2 separate regions of the Homo sapiens genome follow, and region 2 is linked to region 1. The links come from fine-mapping of genetic effects on gene expression. A gene starts in region 1. The other region holds a variant in brackets. All regions are shown on one strand. Distances are between the middles of the regions.

Region 1 (12,394 bases):
TAGAAAGCACTACACAAACCTGAGAGGTAGAAGGGACAAGGAAGAGCCAGGATGTGGATGGGGCAGAGGAGTGTGTGTGTGTGTGTGTGTGTGTGTGTGTGTGTGTGTGTTTCTTTCTTTCCTTCTTTTTTTTTTTTTTTTTTTTTTTTTTGAGATGGAGTCTCACTCTGTCACCCAGGCTAGAGTGTAATGGCACTATCTCGGCTCACTGCAATCTCCACCTCCCAGGTTCAAGCAATTCTCTTGCTTCAGCTTCCTGAGTAGCTGGAATTACAGGCATGCGCCACCATGCCCAGCTAATTTTTGTATTTTTAGTAGACACAGGGTTTCACCATATTGGCCAGGTTGGTCTTAAACTCCTGACCTTAAGTGATCTGCCAGCCTTGGCCTCCCAAAGTGCTGGGATTATAGGCATGAGCCACCACACCCGGCCAGGAGGAGTATATTTCAATAGTTGTCAAATTATCTGTTTTCCAGAAATACCAAGGGGTAAAAAAACGCTTCCTTCATTTTTTTCTTTGCATTTGTGCCTTGCCTCTACAATGGATGGTCAATTTGGCCACAGTCAAGGACGGTGGTCAAGAGCATGGGCCTGAGCCAGCTCTAGGTCTGAATCCTGGTTTTGCTGCTTCCAGTCTGTGTGACTTTGAACAAGTTGCTTAACCTCTCTGAACCATAGCATCCTCCCCTGAGAAATGGAAATGATAACGGTACCTGCCTACAGACCCTGGCCCAGAGGAGCACAGGCAAAGGCCCTGCTCAAAGGCCAGCTAAGCAGAGTTGGCGTGAGTGTGTCCCATTGACATGGGGCCAGTCCTCATTCATCACTGGCTCAGGGCAGCAAGAACAGTAAGGACACAACTGAACCCCAAGCTTAGGATTCAGGTGTTTGGCTGTGAGACTCGGGACATGTGTTGTAACTGCCTTCAGGCTCGGGGGGCAGTGGGGGTTAGGAGCACACAGAGTCTGACTCACGGGGCCCTTGACCTTGGCCAAGCCTCTAACACCATCACAGGGCCAGACCTACCTCGAGGCTGGGGGGTATGAGACATATGAGCCCCAGGAAGAAGTTCTCAGTGGAGATTTGGAAGCTGAAGTTGAAGACGTTCAGCTCATGCAGGTTGGGGGAGGTGCTCTGGGGGCAGATGTCCACTGTCCCATGGAAGGGCGACACCGTGATGGTGGAGGGGCAGTCTGCAAAGGGCAAGTTGTTGCTCAGAGCCCCATCGATGTAGCGCTGCAATTTGTGGGGAGCAGGTGGGTGGTGCTGCCCTCTCAGAGGGCCTCCCACACTGGCTGCAGCCGGTGACCCTCCAGCTGTCCCTGAGTCACCAGGGCCACTCCAGCCCAGGAGGCTGAACGCCCCCCAGGAGCAGGGGGAGGGCCTGGCACACAGTAGGTGCTCAAGGAGCGCTGGTTTCCTCCACCCAAGCACCTCTCCACGGTGTGCACCCCAGGCTGCCCAGAGCACAGAACGGGGTTCCAGAGTGCACTCACCTCCCCTCTGAACTCGGGGGGGATCAGCCCGCAGTAGAAAGGAAAGTATAAGGTGCAGACCAAGGCCTAGGAAGAGAAGAGTCAGCAGGAACACAACTGTGCATGCTTCTTGCATTCAGAACCTTCCTAGGCACGGTTTCTAATCCCAACAGCCTGCAAAGGAGGTGTCATCAGTCCCACGTCCAGATGAGGGAGCTGAGGCATCACCTCCCAGCCAAGCTCTCCAAGGGAAGCAGGGATTGGAGCACCTCTGTCTTGACACCCACCTCCTCTTTCTGTGGGTGTGCAGGGAAGGAGGCCAGGTGCAGGCTCCTGAGGAAGCCAGCCGGGGACCCCAAAGAGTGGCCCAGACTCCTTGCCTGTGTAGCAGTTGGGATGGGGCCTGGCACATAGTAGGTGCTCAGTACACATTAGCTGCCGTGACTGTTATCAGTCTGTGGGAACAAAACTGTCACCTGCATCTCCATCTGGTCAGGGCCAGGATGGGTTCTGCACCTCCCAGAGAGAGTTGGGACGTTTCCAAGGGTTCCATGAGACAAAGTCCTATATTCAAAAGTTTGCAAGCTCTGGGTTGGTGGTTCTCAACTAGGAGTGATTTTCTCCCCTACAGGACACCTAACAATGTCAGAGACATTTTTGGTTGTCACACTGTGTGCCTGCACTTGAGCGTGCGCGTACACACTATTGGCAAATAATAGTGTCAGGGTGTATGTGAAGCATCTTTTTTAGACATCCTATTTCATTTCAATACTGGATGGTTCCTTACCTCCTTACTTGGAGATGAGTTCATTATCGATACCGCCTGCCCCCCAGAACCACTGAGCATAGAAGCCCCAGGAAGGCAAGGGTTTCTGTCTGTTTTGCTCCCTGTTACAGTCACAGTGCCTAGAATAGTGACTGGCACATAATAGGTGTTCAATAAATGTCAACCCACCGCCAAAAAGCGGCGGGAGGATGGAGTGGGGTGGAGGCTGGGGCTAGCCAGCTGCCCTCTGGAAAGAGCAGTCCCTGTGGGGGCCCTGACTCAGCAGCCTGACTCTGCCGGGCCCCAGCCAGACCCTTCTGTGTGCAGCAACCTGGAAAGTCTCCAGACCCACCCTGCCGACCCTCTCTGGGCCTCAGTTTCCTCACCTACAAACAGGTCCACCCGCCCTCCCTCCTTCCGCCCCTGCAGAAACGTCTGACGGGGAAGTACCTGGATGTCACTCTGGACTAGATGGAGCCCGCCCACCAGCCAAGCCCTGGGCACCCCCCGCCCCACACCTGGATGAGCTCATCGCAGGTGGCGAAGTCAGTGACCAAGAAGTTGCGTCCGTCAGGCCAGCGGGTCAGCGAAATGCCCAGCCGCTGGGAGGCCAGGACGTGGGCGTCGGGGGGCAGAGCATCCTGCAGCTGCTGCTTGACGTGCTCGATGGGCGCGTAGGCCGGGTGCAGGATGCTTAGGCTCAGCCGCTCCAACTGCCCAACCATGCCCAGGAGGTGGGAGCAGCAGAAGTCTGCAGTGGGGGCAGGGAAAGGGAGACCTCAGCGCCCAGGGATCCTGCCAGTCCCTCCACACCCCCACTGCCCTCCTAGGTGCAGTGGGAGCGGGGTCCTCCCCACTCCAGCTCAGAATTTCTGGGCTCGGCCCCGGATTCAAATGATCCGTTCACCTTTTCACTTTTTGCCCCGCCGACCTGGGAAACAGAGTTTCTGGCTCTGAGCCACGATCCCTCCTCTGCAAATGGGGGTCACCTAGTCCCCAGCACTCGGTGTTCTCATGGGATTAAATGAGGCTGTGCCGGGGGTAGAGGGCGCAGAGCACAGCGCCAGGCACCAGCGTCTCTGGGCTCGATCCGCTTTCATTAAGCTGTCCCCGCCCCTTTTCGCCCCCGCGGTCCGGGACTCACCGACCGACTTGCCGCAGACGATGCTGACTGCGTTGAGCGCCCCAGACGAGGAACCGTAGATGCGGCGGGCGCCCTGGAGGAGGCGCGGGGCTCGCTGGCGCAGGCATTCGGTGGCGCCCACGTGGTGGGCGCCCAGGTAGCCGGCGCCGGAGAAGGACAGGTTCCATCTGCCCTCCTCCTCTAAGAAGCCCATGGCGGGTGGACCGGGCGGGGTGATCGGGACGAGGAAGGGTCACTCCGTGACCCGGGATAGGGCCGGGATGCAGCCTTGGACGGGGCTGGGCCCAAATGTGGGCTCTGGAGGGAGCCGGGCTGGGGCTGGTGCTGGTGCTCCCTGCGCCGCCCCCGGGCTGCGTCACCTGCGCCCCAGCCAATGAAGTCCCCGGGTCGCGATCAGCCCCCACTCCAGTTGTGCGCCAGGTGTGCCCCAGAAGTGCCCGCGCGCTGTGTATACGCTGGCGCCGCCCCCACGCGCCCGCCCCGGATCCGCATCGGGTCATAGATTTCTGGGTGACACGGCAGGGGAGTGGGACCAAATCTTGCCTGATCTCTGGTAGTCTGGGCAGATGTTATTCCAGTCCTCATTACGCAAATGAGGCAACTGAGGCGCAGCCCAGGATGGTGACAGCCAGGAAGTGGCAGAGTCGGACCCAGGACACCTGGTCTTTGGGGTCAAACCAGGCTTAAGTCCGCAGCTGTGCTGGTTCCAGGGAGGGACTTGAGGGAAAGAGAGGTCTCGGGGCCAGCCTCCGCTCCAGCCAGCACCACTGCACCTTCCCCTGGCTCACCCGCTCTCCAAGCCTCACCTACCACTACAGCCTGCTCAAACATCCCACCTCCTCCCTCCTCCCCTAATCAATCCATTGGAAAGTGCTTTATAAACTGCAAAGCTCCAAGAACTTGGGTTTGTAGTGATTAGGGCTGTCTGGGCTCCAATTCTGGCTCCAGAATGTCTTGGCTGGTGACCCTGGATAATTTAACTGATCTGTGCCTCAGTTTTCTCATCCATCAAGTGGGGATAATAACATTACTTACTCCATAGGACCGGTAAGGATTAGAGTTAATGCAAGTAACGTGTTTGGAATAGCGCCCGGCACTGGATAAGCACACAAACAATGGTTACTACGGTGATTGTTTTAATCAAGTGGCGCACAATCAATGGCAACCGCTATGTTATTTATTTATTTATTTAATTTTGAGGCAGAGTCTCACTCTGTCACCCAGGCTGGGGTGCAGTGGCACAATCTCGGCTTACTGCAACCACCACCTCCCAGGTTCAAGCAATTATCCTGCCTCAGCCTCCCAAGTAGCTGGGACTACAGGCACGCACCACCACGCCCAGCTAATTTTTGTTATTTTCGGTAGAGACAGGGTTTCACCATGCTGCTCAGGCTGGTCTCGAACTCCTGGCCTCAGATGATCTGCCCACCTCAGCCTCCCAAAGTGCTGGGATTACAGGCAGGAGCCACTGCGCCCATCCCTGTGTTACTGCTTTAATCACATGGCACATATCAGTGCCTTCTCATGTGAGCTCCTTGAGGGCCAGGTCCTCCATCTGTGCCTGGAAGAAGTGTGGCACAGTGTTTGTGGACTGAATGCTCAGCCCATGGCCTGGGTGGGTCATTTTCGGAGGAAGAGGTGGGAGGATCTGCTTCTCTTAGCCTCACACCTACCTCTTCCTTGACCTGGGAGTGAAGGGCAGCTTGCCCATGGGCACTGGGTGCAGAAGGCACCCTGGGACAGGCCAGCCCAGCCTCCCCTCCCACAGAGGTGGGCGGTACCGGGCTTTGCTGATCCCACACCAGGGGCGGCATCCTTGCCTCAAAGACCATGGGCCTGCACAGACTCACCCACCTGGTGGCAGGTACCCCAGGCTATCTCCATTGCGGGAAGGACCCAGCCCCAGCTGCAGGGGGTAATTAGAAGCCATGTGCTGACTCTGCTCCAGGAGGGAACCAGGTCACAGCAGGCACAGCCAGGAACATTTCACCCACAGTTGTGACTGTGCCGGAGGCAGACTGAGCCTCCCTGGAACAGTGGACCACCAGTGTGAGTTCAGGAAGGGAGGAGTTCAGGGGCTGGGAGTTCAGCAGGGACATGTTCCGGAGGTTTCGGAGAAAAAGCAAGGTTTGAGCAGGACCTTGGAGGTCGATCAAGGGTTCACCACGGGGAGAAAGGGAGATGGGCACAGAGGGAAGAGTTTGAGCAAAGGCACCAGGCAGGGAGGAGTAGGGAGGAGTGAGAAGCCAGCCAGCGGGAGAGAGCAGTCATGGCGGTGAGGGCAGGTGGTGCGGGGCTGTGGGAGGAAGCGTAAGGCCTGGAGCCAGGCTGAGTTTCTGCGTGCTTGATGCTTCAGGAATTGGGTCTTGCATTTTGGTGTGGGCTGTCTGAGGCCCCCCAGAGACAGCAGGCAGCACAGAGCTCAGGGTGGGTGACTGGTCAACATCAAGTGGGAAAACAGTCTGGCTGGTGGCATCACCAGAATGATGGGGCTGGTGGCAAGTCTAGCAGAAAGTGTCCAGAAGCACGGCCTTCCCCAGCAGCACCATCTTCTCAGGGAGCTGCCCTGGAACCAGCAGCTGAACCAAGGCAGGCTCACTTCTGGGGTGGCTTGGGAGGTTGCAGGAAGGCCAGGAGCCTGCAAGGGAAGATGTCGGGAGTTCAGGCTTGCTGGCTGTGTGACCCTCAGCAAGTCTCCTACCCTCTCGGTGTCTGCCTGACCTGGCCATCCACAGGACAGTTGTGGGCGAGCTGGTGTCAAGGAAGATGCACCTGGTCCACCCGGTCCTTTGCCATATTGTCCAGGCCTCTGGGCTTCCCATTCTTGGAAATAATGCTAATTCTATTATACCTCCCTAAATCCAAAGCAAGCATAACCAAACGTACTGGGCCACCCTGAGGCCAGTCTTGCACGGTAGTGTCTCCAAAAGGAAGTGAGGTTTGCTTCCACAGAGCACTGGAGGCCCCTTGCAGGTTCTTCAAGGCAATAGGGGGCAACAGGTGGGTCCGTCCTAGGGCCCTGCACTTACATTCTTAGTCTCCCAAACTCCCTGCTACAGGAAGAGGTGACTGGGAGGGGCTTGGGGGCTTCTTGGATGCTGGAAATGCTTCGTAGGTCGCTCTGATTACATGGTTGTTTACCCGCAAAAAACTTCCCCATGTGAATGTGATTGCATTCACAATCCACGTACTTGACCATGTGAATGTCATAAAGCTTAAAAAATAAGCCTTGGGCTGGGCAGGGTGGCTCACATCTATTCTCCCCGCCCTTTGGGAGGCCGAGGCGGGCGGATCACCTGAGGTCGGGAGTTCAAGACCAGCCAGCCAACATGGCGAAACCCCGTCTCTACTAAAAATACAAAAATTGGCCAGGTGTGGTGGTGTGCGCCTGTAATCCCAGCTACTCGGGAGGCTGAGGCAGGCAAATCACTTGAGCCAGGAAGCAGAGTTTGCAGTGAGCTGAGATCTCACCACTGCACTCTAGCCTGGGTGACAGAGTGAGACTCTGTCCCCCCAACAAAAAAAAAAAGAAAAAGAAAAATTCAACGAATCCCTCACAAACTCTTATGAAAAATAGAGGAAGAAGGAACATTTCCCAACATATCCTATGAGGCCAGTATTACCCAGATACCAAACCAGACAAAGACATTAGAAAAAAATAAGGTTAAAAACCAATATTTCTTATGACTATAGGGAAAATTCTCAAGAATAGGAGTTCCAGACGAGCCTGGACGATAAAGCGAGACCCCATCTCTACAAAAATAAAAATTAGCCAGGCTCACAGCTGTGGTCCCAGCTACTTGAAAGGCTGAGGCGGGAGGGTTGCCTGGTCCCAGGAGTTGGAGGCTGCAGTGAGCCGTGGTTGCAGTACTGCACTCCCACCTGGGCAACAAAGCGAGACCCCATCTTGGAAAAATAAAAAGCCCCTCCCCACCAGCCACATGATTCTAGCTTGTCCCCTCCAAGCCCCCTCCCCTGCCTCCTGGACTCCACCTTTTCTTTTCCATGAGTCCCTCTGCCCCGGCATTTTCTCCCCAGGTAGAGCACCTGCCTCAGTCCCCCCGTTACTCCACTCAGTAGAACAGTGGTCCGAGCACGTCATGTTTGGGGCCTGGCCACATTCACCGATTGCTTACAGGCCTCTGGGTGTCACACACCTCAGTTTCCCCTCTGCAAGTGGAGATGTGGCAGGACGGCCCTCATAGGGTTACCTTTGGGGTTGCAAAGGATGACTGATGTCTGTAAAACACTGAGCAGGGTCCCTGGTACGTGCTAGTTATCACTTACTCTTTTTAAATTCCTGTCACAATGTGGAGCCTGCCTAAAGTCTGGGGAATTTTAGGTAAGTGGATTCAATCCCAGCCCCAGAAAAGCTCCCTCCTCCAATCTGGGAAACAGGTGCTAATAACTGGTTTGACTAGTGTGCAAAATCAGCCAGGGGCCTCAGCACTTGCTGCTCTGCCCCAGCGGACAATGGGCACCCACGCGTTTGCACTGCAACCCTGAGAGTGAGGGGAGGGTGTGGAGGATTGAAATGGCTCCTGTTGGGGGAGGGACATGGGGCAGCACTGGCTTCTGGCTGGGGCCCAGGGCGCTACCCAACTTCCACTAACCCGGGGTTTTCTGAGGGCAGGTCTGGGAAGGTGGGTGCTTGGTGTTACCAAGTGGGGAAGGGTGACCAGGCATCCATTATTTGGTGATAGGGACTGAGGGCTGATGTGTGCATGGTGACCTCCAGGAGGCACTAGGGGCCACGTGCACCGTGGCTTGTTTCCCGGACAGCAGAGGCACAAGCATGAGGGGCGACAGTCAGGTGGGGAAGGGCCGCTCCTGAGACCAGCCTGGGCAATGGAGTGAGACCCTGCCTCTCACCAGCCACATGGCTCTAGTTCGTCCTCTCCAAGCCTTTCCTCTGCCTCCTGGACTCCTGGACTCCACCTTTTCTTTTTTGAGAGTCCTTCTACGCCGCCCCCCCCCCCCGACCGCCCCCGTTTTCTTCCCAGGTACAGCACCTGCCTGGGAGCTTTTTATTTTGATATCATCTCCCATTTTCAGAAAAGTTGTGAGAAAAGTACAGTGTTCATGGCTACCCTTTGCCAAGATTTCCTGATATTAGCATTTGTATTTATTTATTTATTTAAAAAAAATTTTTTTTTTGAGACCGAGTCTCACTCTGTCACCCAGGCTGGAGTGCAATGGCACATTCTTGGCTCACTGCAACCTCTGCCTCCCGGGTTCAAGAGATTCTCCTGTCTCAGCCTCCAGCATAGCTGGGATTACAGGCTCACGCCACCATGCCCAGCTCATTTTGTTTGTTTGTTTGTTTGTTTTTGCGGGGGACAGAATCTTGTTCTGTTACCTAGGCTGGAGTGCAGTGGCTCCATCTCAGCTCATTGCAACCTCCGTCTTCCGGGTTCAAATGATTCTCCTGCCTCAGCCTCCTGAGTAAGTGGGACTACAGGCATGTGCCACCATGCACGGTTTTTGTATTTTTAGTAGAAACGGGGTTTCACCATGTTGGCCAGGCTGGTCTCGAACTCCTGACCTCAGATGATCAGCCTGCCTCGGCCTCCCAAAGTGCTGGGATTAAAGGTGTGAGCCACTGCGCCTGGCCCTGATATTAACATTTTTAAATAGGTTTGTTTAATACCAAAAAAAAATTTTTTTTAAGTGGGTTCCAGCAGAGATGGGCAAGGCAGGAGCTGTGGAGTGGTTGGTACTGCAGGGGCCGGGTGGTAAGAGCAGTGCTGGGGGTGGGCACAGAACAGCCACAGGCGTGGGTGAGCACCAAAGGCCCTGGATGCTGGAGCTGGGCACTGCTGTCAACTTCGTAAGATAAGAACAAGGAGTGAAATGTGGGGTCAGGTGTCCCCAGATCAGCCACCAGCTAACAGGAGGGGAAACTGAAGTGCAGAGGGAAACTGCTTAGTCAAGGTAACGTGGAGACTCCCAGTTCCTCCTCCTCCTCTCACTGCCTCCATCCCCAGGATTGGGAAGACCTCATCTCCCCTGTGCCCTGTCCGCCTTTTTCCCTGATGCCCTAGGGCATAGGGCCAGGCAGCTGGGCCAGCCCTGGAGCAAGCTACGGACTAGACGAGGGATCAGACATTGTAGAGAGGCAGCAAAGTCCCAGGGCCTGACACAGCTCACCTTGACGGGTTGGTATTGATCCCGCCCTGCACCCTCGCAGGAGCTGACGCCACAGAAGCTTGCACAGCACTTGCTCTGAGTCATGGCTCCCACTCCACTCACTCCAGGACCTGGTCTGAGTCACGGCTCCCACCCCACTCACTCCAGGACCTGGTCTGAGTCACGGCTCCCACCCCACTCACTCCAGGACCTGGGCGCCCAAACCCCTTTCCCCACATTCAAGTCCAAATGTCTCCTGACCCCTTTGAATTTCTGCCAGTCTCCTCCTCTGACCAGTCCAGGACTGCAGGCAGCCGGTTCCAGGATGCTGCCAAGTCTGACAACCGTTCTTCCAGCCCATGGTGCCCTAGATACCAGGGCACTAGCTAGCCAGGCCACAAAGCCAGGAGCAGCCACGGCCTTAGGTCAGAGGCCCTCCTTGTGATCGGGATGGAGGGCAGCTTCCCACGGCCCTGGGCAGCTGTTGACAGCCCAGTGATGGGTGTGGAGCTGGGAGCTGGCCTTTTGGGGAACTGAGGACTTACCTGGCCTGGGAGAGCTGCTCAGGGCTGTTCTGGTTTCTGGGAATACAGCTGAGACCCAGACTGACCACGAGTCTCACGGGGTGTCCATCCTGTGAAACCGACCAAAATGAAATGAAAGGAAGAGAATGAAATAAAAGTCAGCAAGAGATGGGTCAGCTAGTGAGAAAGGCTGTAGCAGAGGCGTCATGGAGAGGGAGCTACTCCATATTTCGTGGTCAGGAAGGCTTCTTGGAGATGATGGGTTTGAAGCTGACACCTAAATGACAAATAGGATATCTGGGGCTAGGGCCTCTGCCAGGCAGCAGAAGCAGCATAAGCAAAGATGTTAGAGCAGATTGGCTGTTCAAGGAAGCAGGACCCTGTGTGGGGAGTGATAAGGAGGAGGGGGCCAGGCTGGAGAGATGATGGCTGATGCAGATTGAGTGTGTAATGTCCCAGGCACCCCTGGAAGCATTTTACCCGGGTTAATTTCTTCAATCCTTTCAGCAAACCACTGCCGTCAGCCCTGATTTACAGATTGGGAAATAGAGGCACAGTGAAATGTGAGATGAAGTAACTTTCTTTTTTTGTAGGGCAGGGGATGGAGTCTTGCTCTGTCACCAGGCTAGAGTGCAGTGGTGTGATCTCGGCTCACTGCAACCTCCACCTCCTGGGTTCAAACGATTCTCCTGCCTCAGCCTCCCACATAGCTGGGACTACAGGCACCTGCCACCATGCCTGGCTAATTTTTTTTTTTTTTGTATTTTTATTAGGGACGGGGTTTCACTATGTTGGCCAGGATGGTCTCGATTTCCTGACCTCATGATCTGCCCGCCTTGGCCTCCCAAAGTGCTGGGATTACAGGCATGAGCCACTGCGCCCAGTGGAGGTGAAGTAACTTTCTAATCATTAGCTGATTACCTCATGACAACTCAGGAGGTGAGGTGCTTGGATTATCTGCATTTCGCACTGAGGCCCAGGGAGATGAAGCAACTTGCCCAGGTTAACCCAGCTGGGAACTGGCAGGCAGAGTGGCTCCAGTCTGTGCCCCAGGCTGCCACCTGTCTTTTCAGGAGGCCCTGTTGTGCCAGAAAGCATTGCACAAGGGCTCTGGGTGGGCTGTCTCCTTCCCCTGGCCCCGGAAGCCCTCTCCTTGCCTGTCTTGGGTGGCTGTGTTGCCAGGCAGTCAGCATGGGCTTTGCAAACTGACAGACGTGTTTCTAATCTCAGCTCTGCCACTGACCAGGTCAGAGACCTTGAACAAGTCACTTGACCCTGCTGTGCCTGTGCCTACTGTATCCCCTCCAAAGCTCAGGTTGAAATTTAATTGCCATTGTGACAGTATTAAGACATGGGACCTTTAAGAGGTAATCAGGGCCGGGTGTGGTGGCTCACACCTGTAATCCTAGCACTTTGGGAGGCCAAGCTGGGTGAATCGCCTGAGGTCAGGAGTCTGAGGCCAGTCTGGCTGACATGGCAAAACCCCATCCCTACTAAAAATACAACAGAATTAGCTGCGCGTGGCAGCAGGTGCCTGTAATCCCAGCTGCTTAGGAGGCTGAGGCAGGAGAATTGCTTGAACCTGGAAGGTGGAGGTTGCAGTGAGCTGAGATCACGCCATTGCACTCCAGCCATTATCCTGTGGGTCCGGCCTGTCTTGCTCTCCCTTCCTCTCCCTGTGCCATGTTATGATGCAGCCAGACATCCCTCACTTGATGTGGCTCCTCAGTCTTGAACTTCCCAGCCTCCAGAACCGTGAGCTAAATAAGTCCCTTTTCTTTATAAATGATTCAGTCTCAGGTTTTCTGTGATAGCAGCAGAAGACCGACTAAGACAGCACTTCAGTCTTCCCATCTGTGAAATGGAGGTGTTCAGGGCCACCTCTCCCTGAGCAATTGTGAGGATGAGATGAGGGATGTGCCAAAGGTGCTGGGCACAGCAGTGGCCGTCACGTCCCAGGACATGGGGATGGTGACTGTCTCCCACAGCAGGTTGCTCTACCTCCAGCTGCCAATCATGACAATAACCAAGCCACCAGCTCCTGGTGCCTTCTGAGGACTCAGCTCCAGAGAGCACTTAACCCTCGACACCCCTGCTGAGTGGCAGGCATATCACCCCCGCTTAACAGGGAGCTGAGACTCAGAAAATTTGCGTAAATAACCCAGGGCCCAGCAGCCAGGAAATGTCAGTGCCAGGATCAGAACGGGGGGGTCAGAAACCCTCCAGTCACACTTGCCCTGTGGTTCCAGAATCGTGCTTTCCTTTCTGTGCGCACCCCACACTCCCCTGCACAGGGAACTGGAAGCCACTAGGCCCCTCACAGAACCTGAGCTCAGATAGGAGCACCCCATGAAG
Region 2 (12,394 bases), 81 kb before region 1:
TTAGGCTAATTTTACCCTTGATTTTGAAAGCTAAACAAGGTTCTGAGTATGACCAAGGCACTGTGAGGAGTTCTGTAGCTCACCCCTGACTTTACACCATCCTCAGCTGAGGTTTTCAAAATAAAGAGAATTTTGAGACATTAATGAATGTGATTACTTCAGAACTTGGTGAGGTAGAAATTGGCAAGGATCATAAAAACTAATACCCCCAAAATAAGCATCAAGTCACAGACCATCAAATACACTTCTTAACCAATGGGAAAAACACAATTAGAAGGCTATCTCACTGATATATTTGTTTATTTGCCAGAGAAGTATTGATGTCCAGTTTTAAACACGTGCTATTTATATCAGAATCATAACAAAAGTGCCATCCATCTGCCTTGGCATCCAGAGAAAACATAATTCAACACAAGAGTAAAAAGTGTGCACAGCCAAATAGAAATGGCACCAGAAGCAAAAATTGCTGGAACTGTATCATGGAGAGGGGTGTGGAAATTATCACTCGACTAAATTGGAAAAAATTGTAAGCAACACAAAAGGTTTTGGCAGTTAAATCCAAACACTTGAGAAAAATCTTCTTGTCTATACTGATATCAAATGGACTGTTATATTTTGGGACATATCAACTATCAAGTTCCCTTTATAGCCTTCCACACACTTCCATATACACATTGGCCATTTACTGAGCATCTACATTCTTGGACGGTGGAAAAATCAAAACCTTTGACGTCAAGCAGGCATAGGGTCAAACTGGCTCCACCATCCACCACAACAACTTGCAAGTTAATTAACCTCCTCCTGACTCAGTTTCCTCATTTGAAAAAGGGAGATACAGTTGTCGTCCATATCCATGGGTTCCACATCCACAGATTCAACAGTGGATTGAAAATATTCAGGAAAAATATGGATGTTGATGTCTGTACTGAATATGTATGGACTTTTTTCCTTGTCTCAATGATATGGTATAACGATTTCCATAGCATTTACATTGTATTAGGTATTGTAAGTAATCTAGAGATAATTTAAAGCATATGGGAGGATTATGTAGGTTATATGCAAATACTACACCATTTTATATAAGGGAATTGAACATCCATGAATCTAGGTATCTTCGAGTGGGTGCTGAAACGAATCTCCCACAGATACTGAGGGACCACTGGAATATCTCTCCTTTAAGCAAGTATTCTTAACATGGAATCGCGGTCCATGTGTGTGCTTTTATAGCCCTACAGACTTACTGACATGCAAAACTGTGTGTGAGATGATTTTTCTAGAGCACTTCTCAAAAGGCAGGTGACCCCAAAATGGTAAATGCCACTGCTCCAAAGGTGTAGATGGATCACAGGTGATATTCGTGAAGTGCCTGGCACACAGTGAACTTTAGCTATTTGGTAGCTGTTATTTTTAGGTCCCGAGGATATACAGAAAGATAAATCAGACAGAGCATTGGGCAAAAACAAAAACAAAAACAAAAACAAAAAACAGCTATATGGTTATAGGTGTCACCTCAGAATATCAGAATAAAATAACAGAGAAAAAACAAAAAGTGAGTCCAGAAAAAAACCCAGCAGGAAGAACTGGCAGGATGGAAACACCAGGAGTGCCAAGGCAGTGAGATGACCACTGCCTGGGGATCCCCAATGCTTAGGCAGGGGTTGGCATATGGCAGATGCTCAATGAATAGTTGCTAAGTAAATGAGCAAACAAATGACTGAAACCAACCCAGGATGCAGGATAACACCATTTACAACGTCCCAGGGGAAAAACTACATTCAGAAGGTGTTATCGAAAACTTACTATTCAGAAATCTTCAATCTCAAATATTCAGTTCAAATGCTAAAGTCCACATTCTCTCCCTGAAGAGTGAGGACATTAAGCCCACACTTTTGTCATTGGGCAGTAATCTAGGCCCTTCCAATCCTCTGCGATGAGCCCTGTGAGAAATTTATTTTAGAAACAGGTTAGACCTATTTTTCCAGATGAATCAAAAGGCCTTATTTCCCTGGAAAAAAAAATAAATTTTATTACCTTCTATTTTTTTACTTTTATTTTTCCATGAGTTGACAAGAAGCTCCCAGCTAAATTTCCAGCCCAACTTTATTAACCGTTATAGATGATCTGAGTATTCCTTCTTTCTGATACCTTCCTATTCTGTCTATATTTTTAATGATTCTGATTTACATGTTTCTATTTTATCACATTGTAGTTATTCTTACAAGTCATCTCAAAGCCTTGGCAGGACTTGTAGAGTATATAAGTGTTTGAGAGTGATAGCATACTCATCAAGAACACAGGTTATTATCAGGCAGTCCTGGAGTTGGAGCCATACTCACTACCATTTATCAGCTTTGTTAAGTCCCTTAACCTCTCTGTGTCCCTGTTGCCTTTTGTTTTGTTTTTTTGTTTGGTTTTGGTTTTGTCTGTTTTGAGATGGAGTTTTACTCTTGTTGCCTAGGCTGGAGTGCAATGGTGTGACCTCGGCTCACTGCAACCTCCACCTCCCAGGTTCAAGAGATTCTCCTGCCTCAGCTTCTGGAGTAGCTGGGATTACAGGTGCCTGCCACCATGCCTGGCTAATTTTTTGTATTAGTAGAGATAGGGTCTCACCACGTTGGCCAGACTGGTCTCGAACTCCTGACCTCAGGTGATCCAACCGCCTCGGCCTCCCAAAGTGCTGGGATTACAGGCATGAGCCACCGCGCACAGCCTGTTTTGTTTTTTGAGACAGGGTCTCATTCTGTCGCCCAGGCTGGAGTACAGTGGCATTATCATGGCTCACTGCAACCTAAAACTCTTGGGTTCAAGTGATCCTCCCATCTCGGCCTCCTGAGTAGCTGGAAGTACAGGCACATGCCACCATAGATATGGGGGGGGTCTGACTTTGTTGCCTGGGCTGGTCTCGAACTCCTGGCCTCAAGCGATCCTCCTGCCTCAGCCTCCCAAAGTGGTAGGATTACAGGCATAAGCCACCACACCCAACTTGTACTTTTCCATAGCCAACTTGTGAGGACTAAATTTAAAAAGTATGAGGGACCAAACTGTGCTTGGCACACAGTAAGTGTTCAATTAGTATTAGCCAGTAGTAGTATTAGTAGTTGCTGTAGTAGAAATAGAAGTAGTAAAACTGTGGACAAATAGATGGAAAGAAAAAGTAACAAATGGTACCTGAAACAAAGTAAACAAAATAGCAGTGAAAGATCAAAACCAAAAGTAGAAAATGAAGCTTTTAATACTGAAAGGGTATCATATTCATGTTATCTCTATTCACAGTTTTCTCAAACCTGTCTCAGTTGTTAACAACTGCCTTGTTAACAACCAGTGGCCTCTCACCAGATTCCTGATCTGGGCAGGCACCAGGCTACTAAACATCCTCATGGAGCTGGTTCTGTCTCCAGGTGCCAGTCAGCTGCAGAGATCAGAGCATGGGTGCTATAGAGATCTCTGTACAAGGGGAAGAGGTAGATAGCTGGAACAGGGCAGTTTTTCCCTGGAGAGCGAAATTTACAGTCTCAGGTAAGCACTTCTTGATAAATATCTATGATCACCTATCATGAACCAAGCATTAAAATAAGCATAGAGGAAAAAGGGAAAGCACAGATAACTAAAATAAAATCCTCATCCTCAAAGGATCTTGCAATAAGACTGGATAGGAGGCAAATATCTTCACATATAATCAAAGGGGCCATTTCTGACTCACTTTCATATCCCCAGAACTTAGCCAAGTAAACGTTTGCTGAATTGAAGGCAATGGATAAAAGACATGAACTGTAGTGTATGAAAGTAGAATTGATTTACAGCATTTCTGTTAAGGCCACCCATTTAGGAACACATATTAAATTAGGCCAAGGCGGGCGGATGGATCACTTGAGGTCAGGAGTTTGAAACCAACCTGGCCAACATGGTGAAATCCCGTCTGTACTAAAAATACAAAAATTAGCTGGGCGTGGTGGCAGGCGCCTGTAATCCCAGCTACTTGGGACACCGAGGCACGAGAATCGCTTGAACCCGGGAGGTGGAGGTTGCAGTGAGCTGGGATCGCTGCACTCCAGCCTGGGTGACAGAGGAAGACTCCATCAGGAAAGAAAAGGAGAGGCGAGGGGAGGGAAGGGGAGGGGAGCGGAGGGGAAGGGGAGGGGAGGAGAGAGGAGGGGAGGAAGGGAAGAAAGGGGAAGGGAAGGGAGGGGAGGGGAGGGAGAAAAGAAAAGAAAAGAAAAAAGAAAAGAAAAGAAGAGTCCTCTTAACAGGGGCAAGACATCCTGAAAGGCAAAGATTTGGAGAGAAAGGAAGGGAGTAGAGAGAGGGGTGATTTGGACAACCTTCAAGTAAGCCCTATACAGATGTATACCTCACAAAGTGCTTCCAAACAAAATTTCTGAGGGAGGCAGGGGTAATTATGTGCAGGCTGTGGGAGAAGAGTGTAAAAGAGCAGAGATTTTGCCGTGATACAGAAATGAGTTTGAATTCTGGCTCAGAAACTTCCTAAGATAGTTGTGTGACTTTGGAAAAGCCCCTTCACCCCACAGGTTTCAAGTCCTCGTCTGTCTACAGGAGGGAGTCAATCATGACATTCACAAGACTGCTGTGGGCACAAATGAAATCAGGGGCATGAGACATGTTGTAAACTGGAGAGATTTAGGGCGTTTCCACACACATTTCCCAGCTGATTCTCACAGAGAGGCAGGGAAGAAGACGTCACCACCGTCAGCGTTGTTTATCGTTCTTCTCCACATATCAGGTAAGCTACGGGAACAGGGGCCCTACTGTTCCCCACAGGGCCCCAGGGCCTACAACATGCCTGGCACAAGCAGACGCGCCATGAACACCTGAATAAACGAATCACCACCCCTTCGTCCCTGGGGGTGGGCAGCAGCGCCGGCCTTCTCAGGGCAGTGAGACCCACGGAGCTGCCCGCCCGCCCGGCCCCTCCTCGGCCTGTCGCACGCGCGTGGCCACCCCGAATACAGCCTTACCGGGAACCCCTCCTCGATTCTCCGCCTAGCTGGGCCGGCACCCGCGTGCGCGGACCCCAAGCCGCGGGGTCTCAGAGGGGCTGCCCATTCGGCGTCTCTAGGACGCTGTTGCCCGAGAGACGACGGCAGTCGCTGACTGGAGAATGAGCCTACGCGCCTGGCAAGAAGCTGAGCTGTGATTGGTCAATTGGAGATAAACGAGGAGGGGGCGGGGCCAGGTCAGTCCCGCGCCTCCGCTCCCGGAAGAAATTTCCGCCGGAAGTCCCGTTCTCTGGGGAGCGGGAACCCTGGCGACCCGTGTCATGGGAGCGGGTTTCTGTTACGTGGGCTTTAGCGCGAGCTGGGCGGTCGGCCCGGTCCCACCGAACTGCATAGGGCCGTGTAGCCGGGGGAAGTCAGCCCCCTGCTCTGAGAAGCAGACTCTGCATCTGTAAAAGGCTAAGCGTGCCCACTGGGGCCTGTGGTCAGGATTGGCTGCAGTGAGGTCCGCAAAGCCCCTACCGCATCCTGCGCCTTCGTTAGGGTGAGCAGTCATGGGGACTCGCATTGTGCCACCACGTAGCGGGTCTCACTGGGTCCGCTTGTCTGCTCGAGGAGACAGCCGGTGAGGACGGGAGCTGGCCTGCTTTGCCCAGGCTGTAACCTCAGCCTCCGCCCATACCCACAGTAAGCATCCATTCCATTGATATTCGCTAAATGAGTGAATTATTACTAAGACAGAGGGCCGAGTGGAAGCGCCATAAATCACGTGAGTGAATGTAATTGTTGTCGCTGACCCTATGGAGCACTTCCCTTGCCAGGCACTCACCCATCCTAGGTATGTACTTTACATGTAATTGTCATCTTCATTTGTCTTCACAACAACCCTGTGAGGTGGGTGCTGTGGTTACTCCCATTTTACAGATAGGTAACTGAGGCACACAGAGCATTTTGTTCAAGGACACACTGCCAGTCAGGGGTAGGAGCAGAATGAGAACCTATGGAGCTTGCTCTTAGGCACCCTGCCACACTGCTCACTGTGGGAGAGAAGCAGCCAGGCAGACGTGTGCAGCTTGGAATTCCTTGCACACATGGCTGCGGCAGGTCAATTAGGTGCCCTGGTGTGTGCTGCAAAGATGGATACTATGCGGTCCCTGCTGGGCACTCTGA[C/CTG]TACTTCACTGGGCAGCTAGTTTTCCTGTTCACCAAGAGAATTCTTTCCCATGGCTTGTCTCAGACCTCCCGCACTCACTACTTCCTCACCGGACTCAATGACCATGGGTCTTATCCCATTGAGAAAATGTAATGCATAAGAATGGAATGCACTCCTTCACAATCACTTTGGCATTCATCGCCTCTTTTCCTCTTGCCCCAAAAGAGGGTCTCTTACAGAGGCCAGTCCCTCTAACTGTGTCCTGGATCCCTCCCCATTTGCCTTCTTTATTATAGGCAGTGCTCTAAGTGTGGTCTGGGAATCCCTGGGGATCCTGAGACCCTTTCAGACTGTCCATGGGGCCAAAAAATACTTTCATAACACTTAAGACTTTACTTGCTTTTTCATTGTTTTTCTCTCATAAGTATATGGGGGGATTTTCCAGAAGCTACATGATGTGTGATATTGCAACAAATTGAATGCAAAAGAAGGTAAGAGATCCAGCGGTCTTGTACTAAGCCAGATGTTAAAGAGATCTGCAAAAATAGAAAACTGCCCCTCTTTTCACTTTTTTGGAAAGTGTAATTTTTCATTAGAGAACGTTAACATCTAATGGGTTTATTATTTTTAATGAGTTAATAAATTTTTTATCAATTGTATTTTCTAACATGGTAAATATTGATAGATATAAACATAAATAAAAGTTTTTTGGGATCCTCAATACTTTTTAAGAGTGTGAATGGATCCTGAGGCCAAAAAGTTTGGTCCTGAGATCAAAAGGGCTTCAGTTATTCCCTCTCTCATGATAGCCAAGAGTCTCATTCTTTCTCTTTCTCTCTTTCCCTCCTTCTTGGAACATGCTCTAGTATCTCACATCTTTAAAAAAAAAATAGATGATCTTCTGGTTTCCACCCCATTTCTCTGCTCCTCTTTAACCTGCTTCTCAGTAGAGCTGTCTATACATGCTGTCTTTCAGTTACCAAATTTCACAGAAGCGTGACTCTCATTGCCTGGTAACTGGCATTCTCACAAATACTTCTTCTCTACTTGGCCGTACATTACTTGACCTCTCAGTAGCATTCAGCCCAGTTGATCACTCCTTTCTGCCTGAAATACTTCAGGCTTCTCTAATACCACACCAACTACTCAATTCTTGGGCCCCACTGGTGACTTCCCTCCTCTGTGTGGCCTTTGGATGTTAGGGCCCCTCTGACCCTGTCGTAGGTCCTGCTGTTATGCTTCTCACCAGCCTTGACCCCTCTACTGGAATGTACTGGAGATCACTCAGACTTAAGCCATCCATATTGCCCTTGATCCACTCACCTCCCTCACTCACCTATTACTTTTTTTTTTTTTTCGAGACGGAGTCTTGCTCTGTCGCCTAGACTGGAGTGCAATGGTGCGATCTCGACTCAGTGCAACCTCCACCTCCCAGGTTTCAGCAATTCTCTGCCTCAGCCTCCCGAGTAGCTGGGATTACAGGCGTGAGCCACCATGCCCAGCTGATTTTTGTATTTTTAGTAGAGACAGGGTTTCACCATGTTGGCCAGGCTCGTCTTGAACTCCTGACCTCGTGATCCGCCTGCCTCGGCCTCCCAAAGTGCTGGGATTACAGGTGTGAGCTACTGTGCCTGCCCGCACTCACCTATTCCAAAGCAATGCTCAAACTAGGAAGCCTTGTTGTTACCCTCAATGATCACTACCTCATACCCCATATCTAGTGCTTCAGCAAGTCTTGTCGATTCTAACACCAGAATACGTACATGGTAGCAATCTCATCCATTCTCTCCAAGTTCCCCTGCACTACCTTGCCTTAAAAGCCTTCTTATGCTAAAAATAAAAATCTTTAAAACAGCATGCAGGGCCACTGGGACCATCCTACAACCTCAACCTCATTCTCCCCCCAGGATCGCTATGGTCACAAAGCCCAGAAGCCAGCTTGAATGGGGCTCCTGCTGGCCAGAATAATGAAGGACAGTAAAAGAAATAGGAGTCATGAGTCCAGGCCCAGGAGCGATGGACAGATAGAATAAATGCAGGACAAGGGAGGGCACGTGCTTGCAGTAGCAGGCCTAGGGACAAATGGTCATGCAGGAGGACTAGAGCTGAAAAGCCATCATGTTGCAACCACTGAGTGAAGATTGATTCAGGCAAGGATCATTCACGGGTGCTTCATCTCGGGGTTCTTTGGATGGGGAGCAGGATATTTGCATTGTTTTAAAGGATAGTCCCACAGATCACTTATTACTTACAGGAGAAAAAGTAGTCATAATACAAAAGAAAAATGGACAATGCTTGGATACCATAATAAAAATTAACACTACCAACAAGGAGCATGGACATTGTGTGGCTTCAGATGTAATGTGAAGGACAACCTCCGTTGAAAAGGGCAACTGCTGTAGTATTCTAATCTGGAATGCATCACCTAATCCTATCATAAGAAGACATTAGGAAAAAAAAAATAAAGATAATTCCATTTTTTTAATGGTTTTTGGTGTTTTGTTTGTTTGTTTGTGACAGAGTCTCGCTGTGTTGCCCAGGCTGGAGTGTAGTGATGCGATCTCAGCTCACTGCACCCTCCACCTCCTGGGTTCAAGCGATGCTGCTGCCTCAGCCTCCCAAGTAGCTGGGATTACGGGCACACACCACCAAGCCCAGCTAATTTTTGTATTTTTAGTAGAGATAGGGTTTCACCATGTTGGCCAGGCTGGTCTTGAACTCCTGATCTCAAGTGATCTGCCTGCCTCAGCCTTCCAAAGTGCTGGGATTACAGGCATGAGCCACTGTGCCCAGCCTGTAACTTACTTTCAAATGCTTCTGAAAAAATTATGTATTGATAGATAGCAAATAATAAAGCAATTGGGGCAAAACGTGCACAGTTTAAGTGGATCTGAGAAAGGGAGTTGTATTAGATAGGGCTGCGGTAACAAATTTCCACAGACTGGGCAGCTTGGACAACAGAAATGTATTGTCTCACAGTCCTGGAAGCATCTTCAATCCAAAAGAACCTGAGGGATAATTTTAGGTGATAAACCCTGGCCAATGTCTGGCTGTGTGGGCAAACATGGAATTCTAGTAGGGAATACCTTAATGTCTTTTGCACTGGCCTGCTCTCAACAGTGAAGCAGGCCGGGCACGGTGGCTCATGCCTGTAATCCCAGCACTTTGGGAGGCTGTGGCAGGAGGATCACCTGAGGTCAGGAGTTCGAGACCAGCCTGGCCAACATAGTGAAATCCCATCTCTACTAAAACTACAATGATTAGTCAGGCGTGGTAGTGGGCACCTGTAATCTCAGCTACTTGGGAGGCTGAGGCAGGAGAATTGCTTGAACCAGGGAGGCGGAGGTTGCAGTGAGCCAAGATTGCGCCACTGCACTCCAGCCTGGACAACAGAGCGAGACTCCGTCTCAAAAAAAAAAAAAAAAAAAAAACAACAGTAACAGTGACGCACACATAAGTGGTGTACAACTGGATCAATGTAGCCAAGAACCCAGAAACTCAAAACCCTTGCTGATTTCCTTGAACCCAAGGATAATTTTTCTATATGTTGAAATGACTAATTAGATGAGTCCATCATGAAGTTTTGTCACGTGATTCTCTCTTTTTTCTCCTTAAAGATCATCTTCAATCCAGAGGGTTTTCCTTGTTCCAGGAAACGTCTCACCTCCATGTGCAGATTTAATTTTTACAGAAACTGAAATTTCCCTCATTTATTATCTAGATGAGCCCCTAAAATCTATTCAATAAGGTTTGATCTTTGATGGAACAGACCAGAGTTGTATAATGTGACAGTGGCCCCAAGGAACAGTTTGTAGGAGGAGATTGTTGTCTTCTCTGAAAAAAACTTCCCAGAAGACATTGATGGTTCCCTTAGGTGCCCTGCAGTGGGTCCACTTCCAACAGGCTGAAGCCTGGATTTGGTGGGTGAGGGTCCTACCTTTTCCTAGATACCATTCAGCATCACTGAAGCCAGTAAACTCACCTCCTGAGGAACCGTTACCATCTGTACTATTTACACCCATGGCATGAGTCTGCTGCTCAAGACCTTTGATGAGAATCTTGAAAAGGAAACCATGAATTGCTGGAGAAAATATCTTTACACTTATATGCAACAGATGGTCCATTCCCTCAGTATTCAAGAAGAAACTCTGGGATCATGGAGACCTGGGTGACAATCACCCTCTGCCCACCCTGCGGGTTTTGGGGGCTTGGAGCTGGTTTTCACCACAATTCTGTACACCTAAGAGACTGGGCCGTAAGATCGAGCCTGTAATTATCTCACAGGCATCAGTGATGATGTTACGAATGCAGATTATGCCTTCATGTGGAGAAAGAAACAGTAGGGGCTGATTAGCCACGAAGAAGTTAAGTACTGGTTTCCACCATGTCTATTAATAAAGAAGGGAAGAAGAGCAAGTACGTGGCAGGGATGCGTAGCGTGTCCACATGGAAGCGGAGAGCCTCTCCCTCTCAGAAATCTGCTTCCCTGACTGCTGTCCTTTTGGTAGTCTCATAAAATGGAGACAAGATTCTCTTCAGCTGTCCTGAGGAGGAAAAAAAAATATGACATAAAAATAAATGAGGTATAAGTAGCTCTTTTGGAAAAGCTACTGTGGTTATTTTTTCTTTATTAAAATAGCTGCTTTATCTCTCGAATATTTACCTTGACAGATGACGCAGCTGCTCGTTTTAGTTCAATCAGCCAGAAACTAAATTGCACATGTTAAACGTTGTCACTACAAATAATTGATGATTACTTGTAAACAGGGGGCCATTTGAGGATCTATCTGAGGATCCTCCATGGAGAGCGGCTCTCCACAGGCTCAGCAAAGCACCTAGGCATGTTCTCTTTCCCCTTTAAGAGACTGATATACTATTAAGCTCTTAATTTCCTTTAATAGCTACTGGTTGTTTCCTTTCACGGAAAGAAGAATAAAATCCACTTATGTTGCTCCTGAACAAGATTCCGTGGTGTCGAACACTGATATTTAGAATTTTAATGAACCCTGGCTGGGCGCAGTGGCTCACGCCTGTAATCCCAGTGCTTTGGAGACCGAGGCGGAGGGATCACCTGAGGTCAGGAGTTCGAGATCAGCCTGGTCCACATGGTGAAACCCTGTCTCTACTAAAGATACAAAAATTAGCCAGGCGTGGTGGCAGGTGCCTGTAATCCCGGCTACTCAGGAGGCGGAGGCAGGAGAATCGCTTGAACCCTGGGAGGTGGAGGTTAAGGAGAGCTGAGATCGCACTACTGCACTCCAGCCTGGGTGACAGAGTGGGACTCTGTCTCAAAAAATAATTTTAATGAAACCTGCCTCCCAAACATTATATTGCAGCAATCTTAGAAGAATGCACCACCTCTGGAATAGAGAAGCAGTTGGGAAAGAAGTGTTTCATGTTTCCTACACCTGGGCAACAGGCAGGCCCCTGACAACCACAAGTAATTCTTTCCTGAGAGCCGGGATCTTGCAACAGCTTGTCATTAGTGCTGTTTAGCATTTAATTTGCCTTTAGTTAGGTAACAAGCATTTATGGATTACCTGTTAGGAACGAATGCACAGTATGGGAACAGAGGGATGAATGAGGCACAGACTCTGCTCACAGCCTACTTGGACTAGAAATATCTACTCAGGAAAGAAAACTTGAAAGCAGTTAGCAAATGCAAACCGATATACCACTACAGGGAATCATCACTCTTTCCGAATTCAAGGCTCTAACTGCTGGCACACTTCTAAGGAAAAAAGATATGCGTTTCTGCATCCCGTCTCATGATGGGAGTGAAGATATGCCAGTCACGCCTTCTGTGGGCTAAGGAACGGTCCGGCCTTCTCTTCCTCTGCAGAGTCCGGGCGTGATGGAGACGCAGGATGGAGGCAGCCATCACCCATTGAAAAACAGCCTGTCTGCCAGATCTGGTGACCCCCCCCTAAGGTCCTTGGTAAAAACTGAGGCCTAGTTGTGTCCAGGATGGCAGTGAGCTGGGATTCATTCATGGCAGCCCCCAGGAGATTGCGTTTTTAAACCAGCCCAAGGCATGTGGTGGACATGGATTGGCAGCACCTACAGATAACGGGGAAGGCTTTCCAAGGGGCCAAACGGTCCATAGCAGTTAGGGAAGCGAACGTTAGAAGTGCAGGTCAAGGTCTCAGAGTGAGCAGTGTGGCTGGGCCAGAGAGGGCCTTCCAAGTGCATAGCCAGTGGAGGCAGCTGGACACAGCTGACATGACAAGGCAAGGCTGGATCCGTCAGACTCTGGGAATGCTCCCAGCCATCAGGCTTCACGGAGCACTGC

Alleles and levels. Positions count from the first base shown, and alleles are read on the strand shown. Sizes are in standard deviations (SD) of each study's normalised expression.
As copies of CTG replace C in region 2, the expression in hippocampus of the gene that starts at base 3,712 in region 1 goes up (small effect, 0.31 SD a copy in GTEx).

What was found. PIP is the estimated chance that this variant, and not a neighbour inherited with it, causes the effect.
Region 2: its variant is fine-mapped to the expression of PNPLA5 in hippocampus (GTEx, PIP above 0.99). The same link has a PIP of 0.9 or more in cerebellum, cerebral cortex, iPS cells, nucleus accumbens and prefrontal cortex.

What each region holds. Positions count from the first base shown.
Region 1 is chr22:43,888,302-43,900,695 of GRCh38, forward strand. It overlaps PNPLA5 (patatin like domain 5, triacylglycerol lipase), which reads right to left and starts at 3,712. Exons shown (of 9, transcript NM_138814.4): 1 at 3,387-3,712; 2 at 2,761-2,993; 3 at 1,498-1,563; 4 at 1,028-1,237. The coding sequence starts at 3,579. RefSeq lists an enhancer at 9,139-10,338.
Region 2 is chr22:43,807,195-43,819,588 of GRCh38, forward strand. EFCAB6 (EF-hand calcium binding domain 6) reads right to left here and starts at 5,111. Exons shown (of 32, transcript NM_022785.4): 1 at 4,974-5,111; 2 at 1,801-1,937. EFCAB6-DT (EFCAB6 divergent transcript) reads left to right here and starts at 5,228. Exons shown (of 2, transcript NR_186822.1): 1 at 5,228-5,790; 2 at 9,720-10,708. RefSeq lists a silencer at 4,633-4,874 and enhancers at 5,206-5,475, 5,717-6,518. The variant C/CTG (reference allele first, on the strand shown) is at 6,123.